Linked DNA regions of Homo sapiens. The protein of the gene in region 7 interacts with the protein of the main gene of each other region in a pairwise test. Each region holds a gene or a part of one and is shown on either strand. Other genes may lie near its edges. The genes, in order: PIAS2, NUTF2, PARN, ZBTB4, MISP, TRMO and SPATC1L.

The links.
Region 1: the proteins of SPATC1L (region 7) and PIAS2 interact in binary tests that used the Homo sapiens proteins (3 or more experiments, as listed by UniProt).
Region 2: the proteins of SPATC1L (region 7) and NUTF2 interact in binary tests that used the Homo sapiens proteins (3 or more experiments, as listed by UniProt).
Region 3: the proteins of SPATC1L (region 7) and PARN interact in a two-hybrid assay, tested with the Homo sapiens proteins (one large-scale study listed by BioGRID and IntAct).
Region 4: the proteins of SPATC1L (region 7) and ZBTB4 interact in a two-hybrid assay, tested with the Homo sapiens proteins (one large-scale study listed by BioGRID and IntAct).
Region 5: the proteins of SPATC1L (region 7) and MISP interact in binary tests that used the Homo sapiens proteins (3 or more experiments, as listed by UniProt).
Region 6: the proteins of SPATC1L (region 7) and TRMO interact in binary tests that used the Homo sapiens proteins (3 or more experiments, as listed by UniProt).

The regions. Positions count from the first base shown.
Region 1 is NC_000018.10:46,890,008-46,893,507, forward strand, and holds part of PIAS2 (E3 SUMO-protein ligase PIAS2), read right to left. Parts: exon of another isoform or gene 3,424-3,500; intron 1,048-3,423; coding exon 573-1,047; intron 1-572. UniProt on the Homo sapiens protein: Functions as an E3-type small ubiquitin-like modifier (SUMO) ligase, stabilizing the interaction between UBE2I and the substrate, and as a SUMO-tethering factor.
Region 2 is NC_000016.10:67,853,433-67,856,932, forward strand, and holds part of NUTF2 (nuclear transport factor 2), read left to right. Parts: intron 1-3,500. UniProt on the Homo sapiens protein: Mediates the import of GDP-bound RAN from the cytoplasm into the nucleus which is essential for the function of RAN in cargo receptor-mediated nucleocytoplasmic transport.
Region 3 is NC_000016.10:14,623,761-14,627,260, reverse strand, and holds part of PARN (poly(A)-specific ribonuclease PARN), read left to right. Parts: intron 1-73; coding exon 74-155; intron 156-3,500. UniProt on the Homo sapiens protein: 3'-exoribonuclease that has a preference for poly(A) tails of mRNAs, thereby efficiently degrading poly(A) tails.
Region 4 is NC_000017.11:7,466,132-7,469,631, reverse strand, and holds part of ZBTB4 (zinc finger and BTB domain-containing protein 4), read left to right. Parts: intron 1-2,304; 5' UTR 2,305-2,375; intron 2,376-2,821; 5' UTR 2,822-2,830; coding exon 2,831-3,500. UniProt on the Homo sapiens protein: Transcriptional repressor with bimodal DNA-binding specificity. Represses transcription in a methyl-CpG-dependent manner.
Region 5 is NC_000019.10:757,612-761,111, reverse strand, and holds part of MISP (mitotic interactor and substrate of PLK1), read right to left. Parts: coding exon 2,386-3,500; intron 1,204-2,385; coding exon 1,073-1,203; intron 1-1,072. UniProt on the Homo sapiens protein: Plays a role in mitotic spindle orientation and mitotic progression.
Region 6 is NC_000009.12:97,905,501-97,909,000, forward strand, and holds part of TRMO (tRNA (adenine(37)-N6)-methyltransferase), read right to left. Parts: intron 1-3,500. UniProt on the Homo sapiens protein: S-adenosyl-L-methionine-dependent methyltransferase responsible for the addition of the methyl group in the formation of N6-methyl-N6-threonylcarbamoyladenosine at position 37 (m(6)t(6)A37) of the tRNA anticodon loop of tRNA(Ser)(GCU).
Region 7 is NC_000021.9:46,170,960-46,174,459, reverse strand, and holds part of SPATC1L (speriolin-like protein), read left to right. Parts: intron 1-3,500.

The DNA.
Region 1 (3,500 bases), on a different chromosome or scaffold from region 7:
TTAAAAGGAAAGAAATTCTAACATAAACTACAGCATGCTAGAACCTTGAGGACATTACATTTAGTGAAATAAGCCAGTCACAAGACAAATACTGTATGATTCCAACGACATGAGGTACTTGGAATAGTCAAAATCATAGACAGTGGAAGTAGAATGGTAACTGCCAGGGGCTAGTGGGAGAGGAGGAGAGGAAGGCTATTGTTTAATGGGTACAGAGTTTCAGCTTCAGAAGATGAAAAGAGTTCTGGAGATGGATGGCAGTGATGGCTGCACAACATTACCAACATACTTAACACCACTCAACTGTACACTTTAAAATGATCAAGATGATACATTTTATATTATGTGTATTTTACAATAAAAGAATTGGAGAAGAAGAAAGATCAAATGATATGAAATAAAGCTTCTATTAGATTTCAGTCATGGTTGCCGAATTTTTATCCGTATATTCAAACATTCGGCATTGATGCCTCAATTTCACTATATTAACAGCACATCATTAATCAATAGTTGAAGGTCTCTCATTTCATTTACTATCTTGTTCAGAAGAAACTGAATTCTCAAACACTTACCTAAACTCGTGGGCTTGATGAGAACATCAAGGACATCATAAAAGGGCAGATTTTTTAACTGCACATCAGGATGGACAGGAGGAATTGGGGGAGATGGCTGCTGCATCTCAAATGTGGGCTTAGTATCTTGAAGCAGCACAGAACCAACAGGAGAGGATGGTGAGTGAGGTGTAACTGAAGTGGAAGGCAACGAGTGGATTCCAGCCACGGCCAAGTCAGGTTCTACAGGTGATGAGCCACCATCCAAACTGAAAACCGATGATTTGATTGTGGATAAATCAGAAAGTCCTTCAAGAGTTCGTGGATATCGGCGTCTATACAATTCTCGGATTTTAATCTGAACCGCAGGGCTGCAGCCGCTCTTCAATAAATGCAGCGCCCTCATCAGGAGGTCATGCTTGCGTCCACTTTTATTCCGTCCAGCAAAGCCTAGTAATACTTGTAGTTCAGAAACCCTAAAACTAGAAACCATATTCTAAAAGGAAAGAAAAAAAAACATAAGCCAAGTCACCCTCAAGCATACAAAAATCCTATCTAAAATATAATGTAAAATGTGATTTTTCCAGCATTCTATCAATTGGCATGTGCTAGTAACAGCATTTCACATACCACTTAGAATCATTACCATTCATAAGACAATCCCGTAAAAATTACATTCAAGTTACGGTGTTAATTATATTTTGTTGTACAAGATCTTAATTTTGGTAATCTATAGTCTATTGGTTTCTACTAACCACTTCATTATCTGATTATGCTCTAATGCAAACAGTTATTTGCTTTATGACTATAAAATCTATCACCAATGAATATACTCCTTTTCAAAACCAACCCCTCCCAATATACAATGTAATGTTTGTTACAGAATTATCGCCAATTAACCAAACAAAAAATCAGATTTTCACAATGTTAGATGTGTAACTTTTGATGCTGAGTAGTAAATCCATAAAAATCAAGTCAGAACTGTGATCCAAAATGCAATGAATTTTTTACCCCAATTCAAACATTAACAAACAAACAACATAATAAAGATATTTTAAAATATTAAAGCTAAAAAATCACATACATCTTATTTAGCAGTCAAACTTCTAAAACAACTGAAATTCCCAGCTGGGTATCCAAATGAGAAAAAGACCTTTGAAGAGCAAGGAAATGAGCAGTCATCAATCTTAAAGGGCAACATTTCCTCCACACTACTCTACTGGCTTGTGCTTGGGCGTAAAACAAAGGTTATAAGCAGTTGCAGCTTCACATCACACCTTCTATTTTTTCAGCAAAACTTAATGAATATTTTTAACCCCTTGCAGCCTCAGGAATCCACCTACTTAGTGATTTCCAGTCAATTCTGAACTCAGAGGCAAATCACACTTGGGTCAGATACCACACATGCATCATCTAGCAAGAAAGAGGAAGAACACCTGGAGCTGACCAAAGCCCTGTCAGAAACCTACCCAGGAGAACTACCTGTGGTTTGGTGTCCCATCCCATCCTCATCACTCCCCCAACCCAGCCCGTGCTACACACTCCACAGTCACTTGGGATTCCTTTTCAACCTGCTTGTCTCATCAGTATAGTGGAAATGTGGGGCAGTTGCTCTGTACTTTTTAAGTCTCAGGGACGGCCCAGAAGCAACTGTTTAAAACCCTATATGGTTTTTAAATACTTGTTGGTATAAATACTTGCTAGTTTACTAAAATGCAAACAGATTTAAATATGCCAAAGTAATCCATATACACTGTCATAACTGTACTTTGTGTACTATATATGTCTCTATATTTCATAATGTACAAGTGAGAGAATATTAAATTGTAATCCTGGCAAGCCATTTTATACTCTAATTCAGTGCTGTCCAACACAAATTAATAGAAGACACACATTAAACCTCCTAGTAGTCACATTAAAAAAACTAATTTAGGCCAGGAACAGTGGCTCACACCTATAATCCCAGTGCTTTTGGAGGCCAACACAAGAGGATCACTTGAGCCCAGGAGTTCGAGACCACACTGGACAACATACTAACACCCCGTCTCCACAAAAATTTAAAAATTAGCCAGCCATGGTGGTGTGTGTGCCTGTGGTCCAAGCCACTCAGGAGACTGAGGCGAGAGGATCACTTGAGCCCAGGAATTTGAGGCTACAGTGAACTGTGATCACACCACCATATTCCAGCCTAGGCAATATTAAGACTGTCTCAAAAATAATAATAATAATAATGATAATTTACATTAACATAGTTATTTAACCCAATATATCAAAACTATCTTTTCATCTCAACATGCAATCAATTTTTGTAATTTAAAAATAATCATTTTTTAAAGTGTCAGTGGGATTTTTTTTATACTAAGTCTTCAATATCTGGTGTATATTTTACACTTACAATACATCTAAATTTGGACTAACCACATTTCAAGTGCTTAAGAGCCACATGTGGCCACTAGCTACCACACTGTGGTAGCTCTAAATCATACTCTAATAGAACACATACCACAATGTGTGTTACCTCTACAGTGCAGACAACAAAGAAGGAAAACAAGAAAACTTTTGGCCTATCTCATAACAAACCAGTCACAGCTTACTCAACATCTCATGCATTAAACAGAAGACAACAGCTTCTTGGGAAGGGTTTACCCAAGCAAGTAATACGATGCATCTTTCCCTCAATCTTAGTAAATACTTCAATTGATTGTGGAACACTAATACTAAAAAAGGCAATCACACAGATAAAACATAACTGATTTTTTCTAACTCAGAATTCACTACTTTGCTTCACTCCTTATACTTATTGTCAGATATTCTTCATTTTAAGGGAAGCTATTTTACAGAAATGACAAAACAAAGCACAAAGTCATCCTACCTAAGCTTGACTCTCAGAGGAATTTCTAGGAGGTCTCATATCTCATATTTCCAGTGATAACATTATTTGGCAAAGGA
Region 2 (3,500 bases), on a different chromosome or scaffold from region 7:
CAGCATCCTCCACCTTCTGGGTTCAAGAGATTCTCCTGCCTTAGCCTCCCAAGTAGTTGGGACTACTGGCTCCTGCCACCATGCTTGGCTAATTTTTGTATTTTTAGTAGAGACAGGGTTTCATCATATTGGCCAGGCTGGTCTCGAACTCCTGACTTTGTGATCTGCCCACTCAGCCTTCCAAAGTGCTGGGATTCCAGGCATGAGCCATTGTGCCTGGCCACACCTGCTAATTTTTATATTCTATTTTTTAGTTTTTGTGGAGACAAAAGTCTCACTATCTTGCCCAGGCTGGTCTTGAACTCTGGGCTCAAGCAATCCTCCTGCCTCAGCCTCCCAAAGTCCTGGGATTACAGATGTGAGCCACTGTGCCCAGCCAAGTTTTACAACTTCTTGTAGAGACGGGATCTCACTGTGTTGCCCAGGCTGGTCTCAGAACTCTTGAGCTCAGGTGATCCTCCTGCCTCAACCTCCCAAGTACTGGGATTATAGGGAACAGCCACCACGCCTGGCCTGTTGTGCATGGCCTTCTTTTTGAGATGGAGTTTCGCTCTGTCACCTAGGCTAGAGTGCAGTAGCATGATCTCAGCTCACTACAGCCTCTGCCTTCCAGGTTCAAGCAATTCTCCTGCCTCAGCCTCTCAAGTAGCTGGGACTACAGGCACGCGCCACCACGCCCAGCTAAATTTTGTATTTTTAGTAAAGATGGGGTTTCACCATGTTGGTTAGGATGATCTTGATCTCTTGAACTCTTGGTCTGCCCGCCTTGGCCTCCCAAAATGCTGGGATTACAGGCGTGAGCCACTGCTTGCCTGGCCTGTGCGAGGCCTTCTAGTCCCCTGCTTGGAGCATGGGTTTGTGGCTTCTCCTCCTTTCACTGAGACCCTCCTATGGTCACTTTAAGTGCCCAATAGTTGTTCCTGTGGTGGTACCCATCAGGGCATCTTCCCAGGCACCAGACAGGAATTCTCCACAGAGGTGGGAGGTTCAGCAGACCTGGTCAGGGAGGCTCCTTGGATGTTCCTTCAACAGATGGCCCTTGCCTGGGGGCTTACAGAGGGAAACAGGAGACAGCAGGGACTTTGGAAATACCAATAGCGCTTGTTTTAGAATCCAATTCAGACCATTTTCGTTGAGGCCTCCAGGACAGAGGAATAGTCCTTTTGGGGCAAGGGGAGTGAATCCTAAAAGTTTTCCACAGAATAGACATTGAAAGTTGGGCATGATTTCTTGGCCGGGCACAGAGGCTCACACCTGTAATCCCAGCACTTTGGGAGGCCAAGGTGGGTGGATCATCTGAGGTCAGGAGTTTGAGACCAACCTGGCCAATATGGCAAAACCCCGTCTCTACCAAGATTCCAAAAAATTAGCAGGGCATGGTGGCAGGTACCTGTAATCCCAGCTACACGGGAGGCAAGAGAATTGCTTGAACCTGGGAGGCGGAGGTTGCGGTGAGCCAAGATCGCGCCACTGCACTCCAGCCTGGGCGACAAAGGGAGATCTCTGTCTTTAAAAAAAAAAGTTGGGCAGGATTTCTTTAAGCTGAGGTTGAGCCGAACCTTGTGCTGGGTGCTGGTTTGTTTTTTTTTTTAATTAATGTTTTGATAGGGCATTTGAGAATGATGTTTGTGTGTTTGCAGTTCAGTTTGAGTTGGCTACCCCTTTCCTGGCTTTGTGATTCTGTGATTCTCTCTTCCTTTGATCATATATGGCAGGAATTCTTGAGTCCCTCCCTCGGGGAGCCAGCAGTGTATGGATTATCCTTGGAGTGACTTAGGTCATGTGATATTATTCACCCTCTTTTTCCTCACCCTATCAGCTGGAGTGTGCCCTCCTGGGCAGAATGCTTTGCTTGGGTCTGGGTTTGGCTGGGAACGTGTCTTAGTGGCCAAGGGAGAGGGACACGAGGCCCAGGGTGGCCTGCCTAGGGGCCACAGGGCTCCTACTGCTGGCTGACCAGTGGCCAAGAACTTCTTTTCATTGTCTGGGGCGTTACTCATTTGTTGCTGTACCTGCTGTGTGCCAGCTCCTTAAGCCCCCAGGCTGGAGACAGGGCTGCTATGGGGATAGGGAACCCTTATTAGAGAGGGGTTTCTGGGGTACCTGGGAACTGAGGGCTGTTTGTCCCAGTGTCCTCAGTAAACTGGGGGAATTTTGGAATGTTTGTTTCTTAAAGTCTCGAATGATTCCATCAGAGCCAGTGGGTCTCCCGAGGGCAGAAACTGGAAAGCTTGCTGCCCCAGGAAAGAGCTCTGTGTGGAGATACTGGTTCCACTTGCAGGTGGTTTCAGGACTAGGAGAATGCAAATTCTCAGTTGTCCTAAGGTGTAAAGCTGCTTTGACCTGCTGAGTAGGTGCTCAGGTTCTTCCATTCTGAGGCTCCATGGAGCTTGCTGATTTCATAGGGGAAGACAAGGCCTGGGCTGCATTCCTTGCCACCCGATTTTTTTTTGGCGGGGGGGGGGGATGGGGGAAATGAGAATAACTTTATTTCATTGCGGGGAGTGGGCAGATGTCCAGCCTCAGAACTTCTGGAACTGCTTCTTGGTGCCAGCGGCCTTGGTGACCTTGAGCACGTTGAAGCGTACTGTCTTGCTCAGGGGCCGGCACTCACCCACTGTTACGATGTGGCCAATCTGGACGTCCCTGAAGAAGGTGGACAGGTGTATGGACATGTTCTTGTAACACCTGATTTTGTCACTTAGGTGCTTTCTGCTACTCCACATTGGCTCTCAGCTGTTTGCATCTCGGCCAGTTTTTTTTTGTTGTTGTTGTTTTTTGAGACAGTCTCGCTCTGTCGCCTAGGCTGGAGTGCCGTGGTGTGATCTCAGCTCACTGCAACCTCCACCTCCCAGGTTCAAGCAATTCTCTGCCTCAGCCTCCTGAGTAGCTGGGATTACAGGCACCCACCACCACGCCTGGCAAATTTTTATATTTTTAATAGAGACAGGGTTTCACCATCTTGGCCAGGCTGGTCTTGAATTCCTGACTTCATGATCCACCTGCCTCGGCCTCCCAAAGTGCTGGGATTACAGGCGTGAGCCACCATCCCTGGCCCAGTTTTTTTTTTTTTTTGCTTTTGTTTTCCTTTTTGAGTCGGAGTTTTGCTCTCGTTGCCCAGGCTGGAGTGCAGTGGCGTGATCCTGGCTCACTGCAACCTCTGCCTCCTGGGTTCAAGCAATTATCCTGCCTCAGCATGCGGAGTAGCTGGGATTACAGGCGCCTGCCACCACACATGGCCAATTTTTTGTATTTTTTATAGGGATGGGGTTTCATCATGTTGGCCAGGCTGGTCTCAAACTCCTGACCTTAGGTGATCTACTTGCCTTGGCCTCCCAAAGTGCTGGGTTTACAGGCATGAGCCACTGTGCCCGGCCCCATCTCGGCCAGTTTTGTGGACATTCTAATGCTGGCTATGCCAGTGGCCTTTTGTGGTCTTAAATTCTTTCTTAACCTCTTGGAGTCTTTGTTTCCTTGTCTATAAAGTGAAGATAATCATA
Region 3 (3,500 bases), on a different chromosome or scaffold from region 7:
TGTTAACAAACGTTGGGAATTCCGTTTTTGTGGCACAATGTCACCTCCTAAGTCTCCTTTTATCTTATCCCAGGTATATAACGAAGTCATTTAACTTCTATGTTTTCCCGAAACCCTTCAATAGATCCTCACCAGATGTCAAATTTGTTTGTCAGGTAAGTAGCATAATTGAGATTTTTCTTTTCTGAATTGCTGATGAGGCAGCATGGAAATGTGAAATCAGAATTTGGTTCTCTATTAACTTTGGGCTTTGGGGCAAATCATTTCACCTTTGACCTTCAGTTTTAGGGTAATAAATTCATGACCCTGTTATCTCCTCCTTTGCTGTAGAATGAATTAAGGAGGGCCAGGTACGGCGGCTCATGCCTATAATCCCAGCACTTTGGGAGGCCGGGGAGGGCGGATCATGAGGTCAGGAGATCGAGACCATCCTGGCTAACATGGTGAAACCCTGTCTCTACTAAAAATACAAAAAAAAAAATTTGCCGAGTGTGGTCATGGGTGCCTGTAATCCCAGCTACTTAGGGAGGCTGAGGCAGGAGAATGGCGTGAACCTGGGAGGTGGAGGTTGCAGTGAGCCGAGATCACGCCCCTGCACTCCAGCTTGGGCAACAGAGCGAGACTCTGGCTCAAAAAAAAAAAAAAGAATGAATTAAGGAATAAGATGCAGAGACAGACAGACAGATATGAGAACATGAGGTTTAGTAATTCTAAAGCTGAATTTGAGAACATAGTTTCGTAACTCCATTTGGGATTTTTATTATTTTACCCCCAAGTTGAACCACCTACACATCAAGACTTGCAGGCTTCTTGGCTGGATGTGGTGGTTTACACCTGTAATCCTAGCAGTTTTGGAGGCCAAGACGGGAGAATCACTTGAGCTCAGGAGTCTGAGACCAGCCTGGGCATAAAATAGTGAAACCTCATCTCTATTTTAAAATAAAAATTAAAATAAACAAAAGACTTGGAGGCTTCTCCCTATCCTCACTCATTCTCCTCGCATCCACTCTGAGGGTGTAGACCTTTATTTTCTGGAAAAGCAGAGTATGTGTGTATCCTATGCAAAAAGAGAAAGCGCAGAAGGGGTTCAAGTATTTATGCTGACTTCCTTTTCTCAAGCTCACTAATTAGGAAAGGGGGGTAGAAAAAAAAACTACTGTTTCTCTTGAGGAGAAGAGAGCTTAATTGATGGGTCAATATTAGGGAGGTTCTCCTTCAGGATATTCCCTCTAGAGGTGTTGTAGCTGACCTGGTAGACACTCAGTAAATATCACTGTTTCCTTTCTGCTCTTTTGATTATCTGTTGTAATGGATAAGGAGAATGTGAGTAAGGGGTATGGTTGTGTGGCTATGTGATTAAAGATAAGTCTTAATCTTTTCTCCCTTAAAATCTTGCATCCTATCTTCTCTCCCACTAAAAACATGAATTCATTTGAGTCTTGCCATCTTTCCCTTCTCTTGCAGATTAATGGTAATGCAGTTATGAAAGCCTCGAGGGTAGGCTTCAAGTGATTGAGTTATGTCAAATTCTTTCTCAAAACTGGCAGTATATAAACAAATGAAATCGAGAGTTAATCATATGCTTATGGGCAAAAGAGAAAAGGTGAAGGTTAAATTCTGGTCTTATAGACAGTTTCCTAAATTAGCAAGTAAACCAGTTGACATTTTACCTTTACCCTGCAATCAGTTAATAGCTATTTGTCAATCACCGTGGTATGGGATACTTAAAGAGTATTTATAAATTTTCTTTTCTTTTTTTTCTTGAGATGAAGTTTCGCTCTTCTTGTCCAGGCTAGAGTGTGATGGCATGATCTAGGCTCACTGTAACCTCTGCCTCCTGGGTGGAAGCGATTCTCCTGCCTCAGCCTCCCGAGTAGCTGGGATTACAGGCATGCACCAAGATGCTCAGCTAATTTTGTATTTTTGGTAGAGGTGAGGCTTCTCCATGTTGATCAGGCTGGTCTCGAACTCTCGACCCCAGGTGATCTGCCCGGCTTGGCCTCCCAAAGTGCTGAGCCACCGCACCCGGCCTTACAGTTTTGTTTTGTTTTGTTTTTTTTTTGGTAAATTTTCATTGAGGGAAAAGTAGGCTCAGTTGGGAAATTTGTGTGGATATAGTTTTCTAGCAGTACCAGCAACACAGAATTATTTAAAGTGGGTTCCATGGCTTTGGCCAGGGGTTAATCAAACAAAAGCAGAGGGTGGCAATGAGACACCTTGGGGATGGCACTTTGTTCTTTTTTTTTTGAGATGGAGTTTCGCTCTTGTTGCCCAGGCTAAAGCCCCGGGTTTAAGTGATTCTCCTGCGTCAGCCTCCTGAGTAGCTGTTATTACAGGCATGCACCATCACGCCGGCTTATTTTATATTTTTAGTAGAGATAGGGTTTTTCCATGTTGGTCAGGCTGGTCTTGAAATCCCGACCTCAGGTGATCCTCCCATCTTGGCCTCCCAAAGTGCTGGGATTACAGGCATGCACCACCACACCGGCTAATTTTATATTTTTAGTAGAGATGGGGTTTCTCCATGTCGGTCGGGCTGGTCTCAAACTCCTGACCTCAGGTGATCCTCCCACTTTGGCCTCCCAAAGTGCTAGGGTTACAGGCGTAAGCCACCACATCTGGCCGATGGCACTCTGTTCTAAACAACCAAGACAAAACTGGTTATTTTGAGAAATGTATTGGAAACAGATCAGAGGAACTTCACCCATTGTACAAACCATGATTGTACACCTGGAATACTTAATACAGTTGTAGTTGCCAGCCACTCCTTTAAAAAAAGCTATCATAGACTTGAAGATAGCCCAGAGAGTAATGTCTAAAACAGATGAATAAAAATGCCGGGATTCTCTAGTGTGGAAAAGCAAAGGCAGAGAAAAGGTTTAGACTCTAAATTTGGGAATTGTATGAAAAGGTTAATGTATTTTTGGATTTTCTTTGGTCTCTCATTTAAGGTTTTTGTTTTATTTAAAATTCTATAGTTGTAGCAGAGTTGCATACAAGGGCATTAGTTTCTGGAGTTATTAAGTAGGGTGAAAATTGGGTCAAAATCTCTCTCAGAAAGCTCTTATCACCCTTAAAGCATATAGGATTTGAGGATACAACAATTTAATATGTTCTTTAAAAAATAAGACCCTGTGTGCGCAGTGAGATGCTCCCATATGCTTGTCAAGATGTGGAGGAATGGGCTGACAGAACCACACTCACACCCAGAAGAGTGTGTTTGTAGAATAGTAGGGCAGTCAGCATAGCATGACATTTACATCATTTTTGTCTTCTCCTTTTTCTTTTCTTCCTCTTCCTTTTTCAGGCTGAAGATCTGTAGTTGAATTCATAGAAGGTATTTTATATATATGGTTGTGAAAAATTGAAGCATAACTGCTGTATGTAGAGTAACAGATGTGTTTCTTTTCTTTTTTTTTTTTTTGAGATGGAGCCTTACACTGTCGCCCAGGCTGGAGTGCAGTGGTGTGATTTCGGCTCACTGCAACCTCTGCCTCCTG
Region 4 (3,500 bases), on a different chromosome or scaffold from region 7:
CACCATGCCTGGCTAATTTTTTTTTTATTATTATTTTTAGTAGAGATCGCCACATTGGCCAGGCTGGTCTAGAACTCCTGACCTCAGATGATCCGCCCGCCTTGGCCTCCCAAAGTGCTGGGATTACGGGCATGAGCCACCGTGCCCGGCCTTAAAGAGGGAAAGTGGCCAGGCATGGAGGCTCACGCCCATAATCCCAGCACTTTGGGAGGCCTAGGTAGGCAGGTCACAAGGTCAGGAGATCAAGATTACCCTGGCTAACACGGTGAAACCCTGTCTCTACTAAAAATACAAAAAATTAGCCAGGCATGGCGGCGGACGCCTGTAATCCCAGCTACTCAAGAAGCTGAGGCTGGAGAATCGCTTGAACCTAGGAGGCGGGGGTTGCAGTGAGCTGAGATTGCACCACTGCATTCCAGTCTGGGCGCAGAGCGAGACTCCATCTCAAAACAAATAAATAAAATTTAAAAGGAGGGAAAGCTAACTGCTACCTTTCAGGGTAGTGATAAGGAACAAATGAGGTAATCCAAATAAAACACTGACTCTTGGGGTCCCGGTGAGCCAGTGGTTCTCATGGAGGCGAGTAGGAGGCCTGGGCATCAGCCTGTGAATGCAGTGAGGCCCCTTCCGCAGGATGCCTGACCTACGACCTACCTGAAATTCACCAACTGACAGGGCAACACTTGACCCAGAACCTCATCAGTCCCTGGCAGACAGGGTTGTTAAAACTTTGGAATATCATCCCTGTTTACCATCTTCCTTCTTCCCATCCAGGAGAGGTGTCAGGAAAATATTTTGGGGGATGTGAAATGGGGTATATGTGGGGAAAAGGCCTTTGAGTCCAGACAGTATGAGTGATAAATGGGAAAGAAGATTTTTCAGGGGATGGGAATTGTATGAGGAACTCCTGATGCCGGACACCTCTGAAGACACGTGGCCCACGGCATACGGAAGGACACCCTCAAAGATGGGTGACAGCTCCCAGGCTTTGTGGAGGGCAGAGGAGAGGGTCCGGAGAGCTCTGCTCTCAAGTCTGCGGGCCTGGATCTCTAAATAGGTGCCGCCTGTCATTACCAGCGCTGTGTGACTTTGGATAAGTCTGGCTTTTGAACTCAAACCTTCAACTGAAAAGAGTCTTCAAGGCCCTGATGGTGCCTGCAGGGGAAGGTGGCTGCGCGGTGCTTTCTCTGCTGCTGACTGCCTGAGCTTGCGTTTCAGTTGTCTGCTCTTCCCTTTGTTTTTTGGGGGGTTTTTTTTTGAGACGGAGTTTTGCTCTTGTTGCCCAGGCTGGAGTGCAGTGGCGTGACCTCGTCTCACTGCAACCTCCAGCTCCCAGGTTCAAGTGATTCTCCTGCCTCAGCCTCCCAAGTAGCTGGGATTACAGGCACGTGCCACCACGCCCGGCTAATTTTTTGTATTTTTAGTAGAGATGTGGGTTTCACCATGTTGGTCAGGCTGGTCTTGAACTCCTGACCTCAGGTGATCCACCCCTCTTGGCCTCCCAAACTGCTGGGATTACGGGCGTGAGCCCCCGCGCCTGGCCTTGCTCTTCCCTCTGGACGAGTCTCCCAGCAAGAGGTGAGGTAGGAGTTGTGATTCTGCCGCTTTTTAAGTCCAGATCCCTAGGGCATCAGGTCTCTGAGTAAGGCGTGGGACCAGGCCTCCTGGTCTTGTGGCCTTTCCAGTGCCCTCCAGAGGCTGGAGCAAGCTGGCAGTTGTGTATGGGTCAGTGGTCTTCAATGGTTGCCTGGCAGCTGCGCCAGAAACCCCCTTCTAAGATTTATGGGGCTGGAAGGATGTGAGGATGTCCTCTCCTAATTTGAATATCTACCAGCTTAGGTCCAATTTTTAAAAACTCACAAATTATTTTGATATGTAAATGAGACCATTGTGATAAATGACAACATGCAAATCTTTGACTTCCTCTGAGCCCTGGAGATTGGGCCAAAGGGACTTGAGAGTGCTGTGACAGGCTTCCCTGAACCTATGGACTGGACCTGTGCTACTATATTGTTTGGAGGTGAATTGGGAATATGCAAATTATCTTGTCACTGTACTTCTCTGGGCCCGCAGAACAAGGCTCTGCAATAATCTGCGTGACCTCCCAGGTTTGACTGGACACAGCTAAACAAATAACCTGGCAGAGGCTCCGGGGAGGGGTCTGGGCTCACCCAGGTGTCCTCTCTGGCCACAGTACTGCACCCCTCCCCACTTCCTGGGGGCTTTTCCTCTCACTTCCCTCCTTGAGGACCCTCTTCTGCTCCTCCTCTAGGTTCCCCTGACATAATTTCTGTTTCTCCGCAGAAGGAAGAGGCCCAGCAGAAGGGACTCGCTGAGCCACCCCCCGCCCCACTCCATGTTGGCTGTGCTCTCAGGTGAGAAGGTACCCAGAGGCCTACAGTGAGGACAAAGTAGACCCAAGGCAGCAGGCCAGCAGGGGCGGCCATTTTGTCTAGGCTGGGGAGTTCTGTGAAATGGCTATCAGGAGTTGTGGAGCTTCCTCCTCCTTCCCATGAGAGAGATTTGCCTCACTTACATCTCTAGTCTGTGACTTCAGAGGTCATGACCCCTTGACCTTCACCATGACCTGAGGTATCTCTGGCCTCTTCCAGCCTCAGAAGTGAGTTAGACATACTGGTCTTGGATGCTGGCCAGACTTGGGTGGCTAAGGGCCAACCCCTGACTTCTGTGACCAGAAGTGATTCAGCCTTCCACTAGTTTCTGACCAGCAGCTCCTGATCCTCTCTCTGCCTGATTTTAGAAGCCCCTGCCCTCTGCCCAGCCTCTGAGACTCTACCCGGCCTCTTCTCCCACTGTCTAGGCTGGCACCATGCCCCCCCCTGCAGAGGTGACGGACCCGTCCCATGCCCCCGCCGTCCTGCGCCAGCTCAATGAACAGCGGCTCCGTGGCCTCTTCTGTGACGTCACCCTCATAGCCGGAGACACCAAGTTCCCTGCTCACCGCAGCGTCCTGGCTGCTTCAAGTCCCTTCTTCAGAGAGGCCCTGCTCACTTCAGCCCCACTACCCCTTCCACCAGCTACTGGGGGCGCCGCACCCAACCCTGCCACCACCACAGCTGCCTCTTCCTCCTCCTCCTCTTCCTCGTCTTCTTCCTCTTCTTCCTCCTCTGCTTCTTCTTCTTCTTCCTCTTCCTCTTCCTCTCCCCCTCCAGCCTCTCCCCCTGCTTCTTCCCCACCCCGGGTCCTGGAGTTGCCAGGAGTCCCAGCAGCTGCGTTTTCTGATGTCCTCAACTTCATCTACAGCGCCCGGCTCGCACTGCCTGGTGGTGGAGGGGACGGGGCAGCTGTAGCAGAGATTGGAGCTTTGGGGCGCCGTCTGGGCATCTCCCGCCTTCAGGGCCTGGGGGAGGGAGGTGATGCCTGGGTACCTCCTACCCCAGCCCCCATGGCCACCTCGCAGCCTGAAGAGGACAGCTTTGGGCCCGGGCCCAGGCCAGCTGGGGAGTGGGAGGGTGACAGGGCTGAGGCCCAGGCCCCTG
Region 5 (3,500 bases), on a different chromosome or scaffold from region 7:
TCTCAAAAAAAAAAAAAAAAAAAAAAGGACATAATATTCCTCATGGCACTAAATATTCCTCGTGTCATTAAAAGTGACGTGAGGAATATTTCATACTGACAAAAGGAGCTCTCATCCAAGAGGATAAACATACATGAACAATTACATGTCTAACAACAAGGCATCAAAATTCATAAAGTAAAACCCCTAAGGCAAAGCTCTGTGGCCTGTAGGTCCTGGAGTCAAGCCTGGGTTCATGAGCTGCCTAACCCTGGGCATGTGAGACCACCAGGGTGCTAAAGGTGTGGTTCATTGGAAGCCCCGAGCCAGCGTGTGACAGACACATCCCTCCGTCTCTCCCTCTCCCTCCCTCCCTTCCTTCCTCGCTTTGTTCCTTCCTTCCCTCCATCCCTCCCTCCCTCCTGCCTTCTCTCTCTCTCTCTCTCTTTCTTAGAAGTAAATATCTGTGGCCAGGTGCAGTGGCTCATGCCTATAATCCCAGCACTTTGGGAGGCCCAAGTGGGCAGGTCACTTGAGATCGGTTTGAGACCAGCCTGGCTAACATGGTGAAACCACGTCTCTACTAAAAATACAAAAAAATTAGCCGGGCGTGGTGGTGCACGCCTGTAATCCCAGCTACTCAGGAGGCTGAGGCAGGAGAATCACTTCAACCCGGGAGGTGGAGGTTGCAGTGAGCCGAGATCGTGCTACTGCACTCCAGCCTGGGCGACAGAGTGAGACTCCGTCTCAAAAAAAAAAAAAAAAAAAGAAACTAATGCTGGTGACGATGACAAATTGCCAGTGTCCTCCTCCTCCAAGCAGAGTTGGTCCTTTGGTCTTTGATCCTGGAGATGACCTCCTGATGGGGACAAAGACCCCAGCTTATATGGCCTCTCCAAGCAGAAGCCCAGAGATACAAGGACACCAAGTTTATCATCTTCTACCTGACATCTGCAGGAGACTGAGGCACGGCCAGGGGTGGGGGTAGTGCTTGAACCCAGGTCAGGCTTGAGTCCTGCTTGAACTTCCTGTGGCCCTAATAGGGGCTGTCTGACCTCAGCCTGGCCTCTGCAGAGACGGGTTCCAGACTCACCCATTGCTCCTTCTTTCTCTGCCCGGGAGGAGCACTGTCCACTGGATCTTCCACTGTCCACGCCACGTTTGAGTGTAGGTGGATGGGGCTGAAGAAGGGAGACTCAGACACCGAGTAACTGCCCGTGATGCCTGTAGGGGAGCAGGGAGGGCAGAACATTAGAACATTTGTCAGACCTCTGCTCGGGAGACAGAGTCTCTAGCCAGCAGCTAAGGAGACAGATGTATGGACAGACAGAGCAGATGACTATCCGGGAAACTGACAGATTGACCAAAGTAGCCAGTCAGGAGAAACTGGATGCACAGATGGGCCGACATGCAAGGTGAAGAACATTAAAAGTGGCCGGGCGCGGTGGCTCACGCCTGTAATCCCAGCACTTTGGGAGGCCGAGGTGGGTGGATCACGAGGTCAGGAGATCGAGACCGTCCTGGCTAACACGGTGAAACCCCATCTCTACTAAAAATACAAAAAAATTAGCCAGGCGTGGAGGCAGGCGCCTGTAGTCCCAGCTACTCAGGAGGCTGAGGCGAGAGAATGGCGTGAACCCGGGAGGCGGAGCTTGCAGTGAGCCGAGATCGCGCCACTGCACTCCAGCCTGGGTGACAGAGCGAGACTCCATCTCAAAAAAAAAAAAAAAAAACATTAAAAGTGACACAAGGAATATTTCATATTGTCAAAAAGGTGCAACTGTCCAAGAGGATAAACATATATGAACAGGCCGGGAGCAGTGGCTCATGCTTGTAATCCCAGCACTTTGGGAGGCCAAGGCAGGGTGGATCGCCTGAGGTCAGGAGTTCAAGACCAGCCTGGCCAACATGATGAAACCTGTCTCTACTAAAAATACAAAAATTAGCCGGGAGTGGTGGTGGGCACCTGTAATCCCAGCTACTCAGGAGGCTGAGGCAGGAGAATCGCTTGAACCCAGGAGGTGGAGGTTACAGTGAGTTGAGATCCTGCCACTGCACTCCAGCCTGGGCGACAGAGCGAGACTCCGTCTCAAAAAAGAAAACCGAAAAACAAAAAACAAAAACAAAAACAAAACACACAAAACATATATGAACATTTATGCGCCTAACAACAAGGCATCCAAATCCATAAAGCAAAAGCCCTAAGGTAAAGTTGACATTTCTCTCCAAAATCTACATTTTTAATAGACAGGCAGACAAACCAGCGACTGAGGGGATGAACAGTCAGGAGGCAATGTCTCCCCAACCCCAGCCCTTTGACAGCCTCAAACTCCACCTCCCCACCCTCCCCTGCTCCAACCTCTGAGACCCTGAGCCAAGCAGCCACTCCCTGGAGCCCCTTCTCACCGGATGCCTGGGAGGAGCTCCTGGAGTTCTGGTCAGAGTTCTCATCTGGCGTTGGGGAGAAGACCTCTGGGAAGAGAGCATTTCTCCGCTCCTCTGCCACCTCTTGCTCCCGGCGCAGGACACTCTCCCTCTCCCTTTCCAGCAGATCAGATGACTGGGACTTCTGCAGCCTCAGTGCAGGGGCCCCAGCCACCTCCCAGCCCCAGACATGGGGGACTTGGGCCTGCTGGGGCTCGTCTGGGGCCCTGAACCGCAGAGGACGCAGGCGGAAGTACTCCCACCGCACGACACCCCTGTTGGCTTGCGGGCATCCCCGAGGGGGCTTCGATGCCTCTTGCTTTGTGCTCAGGGGTTTTCCAGAGGATTCTGAGAGATGCCTCGGGGACATCGTGGCCTTTGGTGAAGTCGCAGCCTTGGCCTCCGCTGTGGAGAGACTGCTGGGCTTGCCGAATGCTCCGAAGGCTGAGAATTCTAGCTGGGGGGTCCCGGGGCTCAGGTACGGCTGGTAGGCATCAGGTGGGATGCGGTTCACCTTCCTCACTTCTGGAGCTGGGTCGGCCGCACGGGCATCTGGGGCCGGGCTGAGGATGGAATCTGAGCTGAGGGCTCTCCGGAGTCCGGGCTGGGGACCCTCCGAGACCCAGTCGGGTGTGGACGCCCGGCCCACGTGCAGGCCCTCCCGCCGGTGGTCTTCCTCACGCTGTGTCTCCTGTACTATGTCCCGCTGCACGTAGAGGGACGGGCGCCCTCTCTCCCGCCGTGGGGCTGTGATCAGGCTCAGCTTGGTCAGCAGCGGCCTGGTGGGGATTTCCACCAGCTCCTGGTGGTCGGTTGCCTGCCGAAGCCCCCTCTGCTCTCGCAGGTCTGCCTCACGCTCCTGAGCCAGACGGATCTCCCGCTCGATGGGCGTCTCCTTGGGGGTCCCCGGGGACTCCACTGAGGCCAAGGAGCCAGGGTCATCCACAACTTGGACACTGGCCCAGGTGGGCACAGCACGCACCTTGTTCTCTTCCCTGACCACCCCCTTCACCTGGGGCTTGATGGGAACCACGTGCCCGTTGGCCAGGTGGGGCTTGTTGAAGGCCTTGGGGGCCTGGCTGGCCCCTGGGGTTGTG
Region 6 (3,500 bases), on a different chromosome or scaffold from region 7:
AACATCCCTTTGCTTTGGGACTCTCTCACATCTGTGTCCCTAAGAAACAGCAAAACTTCCTATGTTTGTAGGATTTTTAATGTATTTTATTTTTAATATGGTATGTATAAAACATAAATTTAGAAAGTAACTGTGACCTAGTTTTTCATAACTACAACATCACATACATCCAAATGCCCCTTCCAGGAAGGTACAGATCTTAAAAACACTGTCCCTGCTCAAAATATCATCTGTGGTGGCAGTGGATCTTTATCCCTCTTGGAGTGGATTTGATTTCTACAAGCAGCCAAAAATCACTGTGGGCCATATCTAATAAGCAGGTTGGGTAAATAAAGCCATGAAGTACAATTTTTAGTCAAAAATCAATTATATGGGCTGGGCACGGTGGCTCACACCTGTAATCCCAGCACTTTGGGAGGCCAAGGCAGGAGGCTCACAAGGTCAGAAATTTGAGACCAGCCTGACCAACATGGTGAAACGCCATCTCTACTAAAAATACACACACACAAAAAAATTAGCCAGGTATGGTGGCGCACGCCTGTAATTCTAGCTACTCAGGAGGCAGGAGGATCACTTGAACCCGGGAGGTGGAGGTTGCAGTGAGCCAAGATTGCACCACTGCACTCCAGCCTGGGTGACAGAAAGAGACTGTATCTCAAAAAAAAAAAAAAAAATCAATTATATGGCAATAAGGTTCCTTTACTGCATGGCTCATAGAAAATGGCTCTGAAGGCCACTCAAAAATGAGGAGAGCTCATCACACTCCCCTGTGACGGCGTTTCTGGGAGAGGCTCCAGGCCTCTGCTTGGCCGTTTATCTGGCATGGGTGCCTTCCCCCAATTCCCTGCCTACTCATCCTGCCAGGCTCAGCTCAAGCACTGTTTCCTTCCACACTCCCTCCCAGACACAAGTCAGGATTCTCCTCTCAGAGTGCCCACAGCACTCTGCCCAGACCTTTACTCCAGCACCAAACTTCCTCCCATTTCAACACCTTTAACCTCTTCTAGACTCAGAACTTCCTGAAGTCACTTCTTATTTCTGCAACAGCTCTGAATTTTGCTGTTTGCTATCAATCAGTTCCTGTTTTGTAGTTACACTGCGTAATTTCTCATTTTAATCATTTTTTTAATCAGTAAGGCATATTTCAAACATCTGACACATACTGCACTGCAGTTTAAAAAACAAAACTTTCCAGGCTGGGTGTGGTGGCTCACGCCTGTAATCCCAGCTACTCAGGAGGCTGAGGGAGGAGAATCGCTTGAACCCGGGAGGAGGCGGTTGCGGTGAGCCGAGATCGCGTCACTACACTCCAGCCTGGGTGACAGAGTAAGACTCCGTCTCAAAAAAAAAAAAAAAAAGAAAGAAAGAAAAAAGAAAAGAAAGAAAAACAAAACTTTCCATAGTAGTTTGCATTAGACAATAACCACAGGACAAGTGGTAAGCATAAAGTGTCTAGAAGGCAGGACTGTTTTGTTCCACCATAAAATCCTTTTACAACTGACCAGCCTCCTCCCATCAACTGTATACAGTGATGTAATGATTTCTATCAACAAAACTTTTAAAAATAAAAAGATCAATTTTAAAATCAAAAGCTTTGTTTAAAAGTAAAGCCTTAGGAGCCAAAGAGAAGCACAACCCTCAAGTGGCATCACCACTCATGACCACGAGACTGCCGTGTCCAGAAGTGCAGGGGGTGCCCTGCATACGGCACTTGGCTGAAGTTTGCATGTTGGGGCTAAAACCAGTTCCTGGGCCCTGGCAGGTGGCTGCCTCCACCCAGAGGAAGGGGTGGCTTTTCCTTTGCAAAAGGCAACAGTGTGGGCTGGCTGTGGCTCTGACAGGAAGAAATGGGGAAATCTCAGAGTCAGTTGGCATGTATCTCCAGTCCCAACTTTTAGACTTCTTTTTCCCATCAGAAAAACCTCCTTCAGGTTGGATTATCAAAGCCAAATACCCCCCTAGCCTCTTCATTCTCTCCCTGCTAGTAAAGCAGGGGAAAATCTAGTATCTTTGGTTGTGTAAGCCTTTATTTTCTGGATATAGAATGAAAGTCTTCATTGTCTCAATAAGGAACTCCAGCTTGCCTTTGCATGTCACTGAGGTGTGACATCCCAGAAATCACACAGGTAGTGATCTGACCCCAGAGATGGTCCCCTGCTCTCTGGGGATACGGACATCAAGTTCCTCTGCCTTTTACTTCTCCCAAGATCAAAACTCAAGTCCTTACAATGGCCTATAAAACCCTTAGGTGACCTCGTCCCTTTTCTAGTGCCTCTTTGACCTCATATCCTTCCGCTCAGCCCTCCTCAGTCCACTCTGACCACATGACCTCAAACGTGCCATGCACCCTCCACTTTGCGGCTGTGCACTGGCTGTCCCTCAGGCCAGCATGTCCTTTCTCTGGACAGGCTGGCTCATGTCTTCACCTCTTTGACCTTTGCTCATATGTGTCTTTCTCAGTGAGGCCCACTGGGGCCACCTATTTAAAATTGCAACAGGCTAGGTGCAGTGGCTCACACCTGTAATCCCTGCACTTTGGGAGGCTGAGACAGAGGATCCCCTGACCCCCAAGAGTTCAAGACAAGTCTGGGCAACAAAATGAGACCCCGTCTCTTTAAAAATTCAAAATAGGTTGGGCACGGTGGCTCACACCTGTAATCTGGACACTTTGGGAGGCCAAGGCGGGGGAATCACAAGGTCAGGAGATCGAGACCATCCTGCCTAACACGGTGAAACTCAGTCTCTACTAAAAATACAAAAAATTAGCTGGGTGTGGTGGCGGGCGCCTGTAGTCCCAGCTACTCGGGAGGCGGAGGCAGGTGAATGGTGTGAACCCGGGAGGCGGAGCTTGCAGTGAGCCGAGATCGAGCCATTGCACTCCAGCCTGGGCGACAGAGCGAGACTCCGTCTCAAAAAAAAAAAAAAAAAAAATCAAAATATTAGCCAGGTGTTGTGGTGCACACCTGTAGTCCCAGCTACACAGAAGGCTGAGGTGGGAGGACTGCTTGAGCCCGGAAGGCTGAGGCTGCAGTAAGCCATGTTCTTGCCACTGCACTCCAGTCTGGGTGACAGAGTGAGACCCTGTCTCAAAAATAAAATAAAATAGTAACAACACTCCAAGCCTGCTGTATTCTTAAATTTTTCAGTAACTCTTATCACCTTCTAATATTATATAATGTTGAATATGTTTGGTCTAATAACTTGATTGCTTATTATACTTTTAATTTGTCTCTCTCCTCCCCATTAGAATGCAAGCTCCATGACAGCAGGGGTTTTTTATATCTGTTTTGTTCACTGATGTATTCCAAGAACCTAGACCAATGTCTGGTACCTAGCAGAAGCTCAGTAAACAACTGTAGAATGAATAAATGAACTTCCCTCTTTATATGGTTATGCTGGCTCCTTACTGAGTTGTAACACAAAGAACAGCTTTTTGCAATCTGACATCTCCTTGGCAACCAGCTTCTTCTTTTTGATGGAGTCTCACTCTGTCACCCAGG
Region 7 (3,500 bases):
GCCTTTATTTTGAGCCTATTTGTGTTATTGCATGTGAGATGGGTCTCTTGAAGACAGCATACCAATGGGTCTTGGTTCTTTATCTAGCTTGCCATTCTGTTTTTTTTTTTTTTTTGTTTTGTTTTTTGAGACAGAGTCTTGCTCTGTCTCCCAGGCAGGCTGGAGTGCAGTAGCACAATCTCGGCTCACTGCAACCTCTGCCTCCTAGGTTCAAGTGATTCTCCTGCCTCAGCCTCCCAAGTAGCTGGAATTATAGGCACCCAACACCATGCCTGGCTAATTTTTCTATTTTTTAGTAGAGATGGGTTTTCATCATGTTGGCCAGGCTGGTCTTGAACTCCTGGCCTCAAGTGATTCACCTGCTTCAGCCTCTCAAAGTGCTGGGATTACAGACATGAGCCACCATGCCTGGTCTGTTTGATGACCTTGAGGTTTTGATTGTGGTATAAGGTGGATTCAGCCAACTGGCTTCATTTATGGAATATTTAAGGGGCCAGTGCCCAGCTGCCAACTCCTGGACTCTGCATGCTCTAGCTCTGGGGGACTTGTTTTGGGCCCTGACTTTGTTCTCTGGCTCCTTGAGGTTTGGAATCCACTGCACTGGGGGGCTGAGGTACTGCAGCTACAGCAGAGTGGCTGGCAGATGCAGAGTGCCTGCCTTCCTGTGGGGGTTCACCACAGTGGTGGAGGCAAAGCAGCTGGGGTGGGGATGGGGGGCTCCTGTTGGAGACTGTGTGCAGTTACTCTGGAGGTACTATAGGCATGGGTGGGGTGCTGGTTGGCACAGGTCTAGGTGCCTTTTCTGTGCCCTGCAAGCAGGAGTGATCGCTCAGGGTGGGGGAGGATCCACTGTTCTCTGCTCAGTGTTAGGTCAAAGGCAGGGTTCTGGCGGGTATGGGGCTTGCTGGCTCTGTGTCTGCCAAGGCTTCACCTGCAATGGAAGTCTGTAGGGAAAGGGGAGGCCCACTGGACTCCTGCATGCTGGTGGGGGAAGGAAATCAAAACCCACCTGTGCAGACATCAGCAGAGTGATGTGGGGAGTTGCCTGGGCCCAGGGGAAGCTACAATATGAGGAGGGAGCAGGCAGGCTGGTGTGTGGCCGTCGGGGCTGTCTCACTGGAGCTCTCCACTGGCCAGGCACAGTCTGCTGGCACAGAAGCTATGGTGAAGACCCCCAGGGCACCCAAGACTGCCCTGCAAGCAGGCATGGCCAGGCTGGGGCCCCAGGAGAGGCCAGCAGACGAAGGGGTGCTCAGGTTGGACTGGTCCCATCTGATGGGTAAGACCACCCTGCAGAGAACAGGTCTGACAGTTCCCCTAGGTCCAAAGTCTCCTGTGGGAGCAAATCAAGCCTGGGGGACGGCCGTCCCTGGCTGTGTTCCTGCACCAGACCCTCTGGGTTCTGCTTCAGCTGGCTGCTGCCCCCATCACTTCTCTAAGCAGCTCTCCCTGCCAACTAGAGTGTCCATGGTGGGCAAGGGGTCTCCCCCAGCTGGGGTTCCAGAGGCCCATGGCAACAGTGGGTTGCTCCTTGCCCGTTTAACTCCCCCATTTCCCCAGAGCTGTTGTGGGTCCAAAAATGAGCACCAGTGCTCAGTAGTCCCAGGCAGGTTCCCAGCTTTCTCCCCTTCAGCCCAGCTTCTGTGTGCTCCCTCCATCTGCCCTCAGCACCTTCCCTCTGAAGATGTGTTAGAAGCTCACCAGTCATCTCAGGCCCTCCGTGGGAGCTGTATCATCTGGCTGCATCTGGCCGGCCATCCCGCCCTTCCAATCCACATGAACTTCTTATTTCTGTCTTTGTCCTTATTACTCAGAACTCGGGCCTTGGCCTTGACTTTCATGGGGCCTCCTCCAGGGAAGGTGAGAGAGGGTTTTGGCCGCATCCTGGTCCTCCTGACCAGCTGTGGGAAGGACCAACGGTCCCATCTGCCCAGAGGAGGGAGGTTTGCACAGGCTGGATGCTGTGGAAGAGTCCTTCCTGTTCTTATTTTTGGAAAACAGAAAATTTGAGAAATGGCTCATCTTGTTCGGTGTTTGTGAGCCTATCTCTGTACCAGTGGAGGTATCTCAGCTTCTTGCCAGGGACCGTATCTGGTATCTTGCTACGCTGCACAGCCACTGGGTTCTGCACACCCTGCCTCTTGCTCTCCACCCCACCGCCTCGTGCTCTGCACACACCCCTGCCTCATGCTCTCCACCCCCATCTTGTGCTCTGCACACCTCCCCGCTTTGTGCTCTGCACAACCCCCGCCTCACGCTCTGTGCATCCTCCGCCTCACGCTCTGTGCATCCCCCGCCTCACGCTCTTTGCATCCCCCACCTCACACTCTGTGCATCCCCCGCCTCATGCTCTGCACTCCTGCCTCATGCTCTGTGCATCCCCCGCCTCATGCTCTGCACTCCTGCCTCATGCTCTGTGCACACTCCTGCCTCGTGCTGTGTGTTCTTGATCATGTTTGGATGAGACTTTGTGCAATTATTTTTGGCCTGGCCATGGTTTTTTTTTTTTTTTTTTTTTTTCTGGGGGTTATCTTTGTAGGAATTTGACATCAGAGTTGTGACAAATTTTGAAACCTAATTGAGCATCTTTTAACCTGTTCTACGGTTCCAGCCTCATTTGTATGATGTCGGGATTATGACTTGTTTGGGAACTTGGCACACTCACCCACAGACCATCCAGGCCTGCAGCCCTCTGGGGAATAATCATTTCATAACTTTTAGATTTTCCTTCTTTGTGTATTGGTTCATTTAGGTTTTCTACTTCTTATTGAGTCACTTGAAAGTAATTTTCCAGGCTATCTCCTTTTATTGAAATTTTAATTAATACATAATTGTACATAATATTCTTTTATAATTTGAAAAGTGTCTGGGGTGGGGGGTCTGTGAAGCCTGAGGACTCCAGGCCTCCCACGTGGCAGGAGGCCGGGCACACGCTGATGACTTTGCTTCTTTCGAACTTTTTTTCCTTGGAAAACATTTCAGAGGGAAGATTAGTTGGTTCCTTTGTAGGCACATTTTTTTTTTTTTTTTTGAGATGGATTCTTGCTCTGTCGCCCAGGCTGGATTGCAGTGGCACGATCTTGGCTCACTGCAAGCTCCAGTAGGCACATTTTAAGGTATAATTTTTTGATATGGCTCCGAACACTTTCTCTAATATGTATTTGCTTTATTGCTAGGAGAATACACATGACATGGAGGTAGAATAGAATTTCATAAGCCATAAAGGCATAGATAAGCTAAATTTGGCCAGGGATTGGGGAAATGCCACATGACCTCATCAGCCTGGTTGGGGAATATTCAGTCCTCATGAGGGTGTGGGGCCAGGAGGTGTTGGTGGGCATGGACCCTCCCCCTTGGTGTGGAAAGCAAAGAAAGTGAACACACCTGAGCCCAGCGTCAGACCACAGAGGATGTTCACAGAGCAGGAGGCTCCTCCCCATCCACAAAGGATGTTCACAGAGCAGGAGGCTCCTCCCCATCCACAGAGGATGTTTACAGAG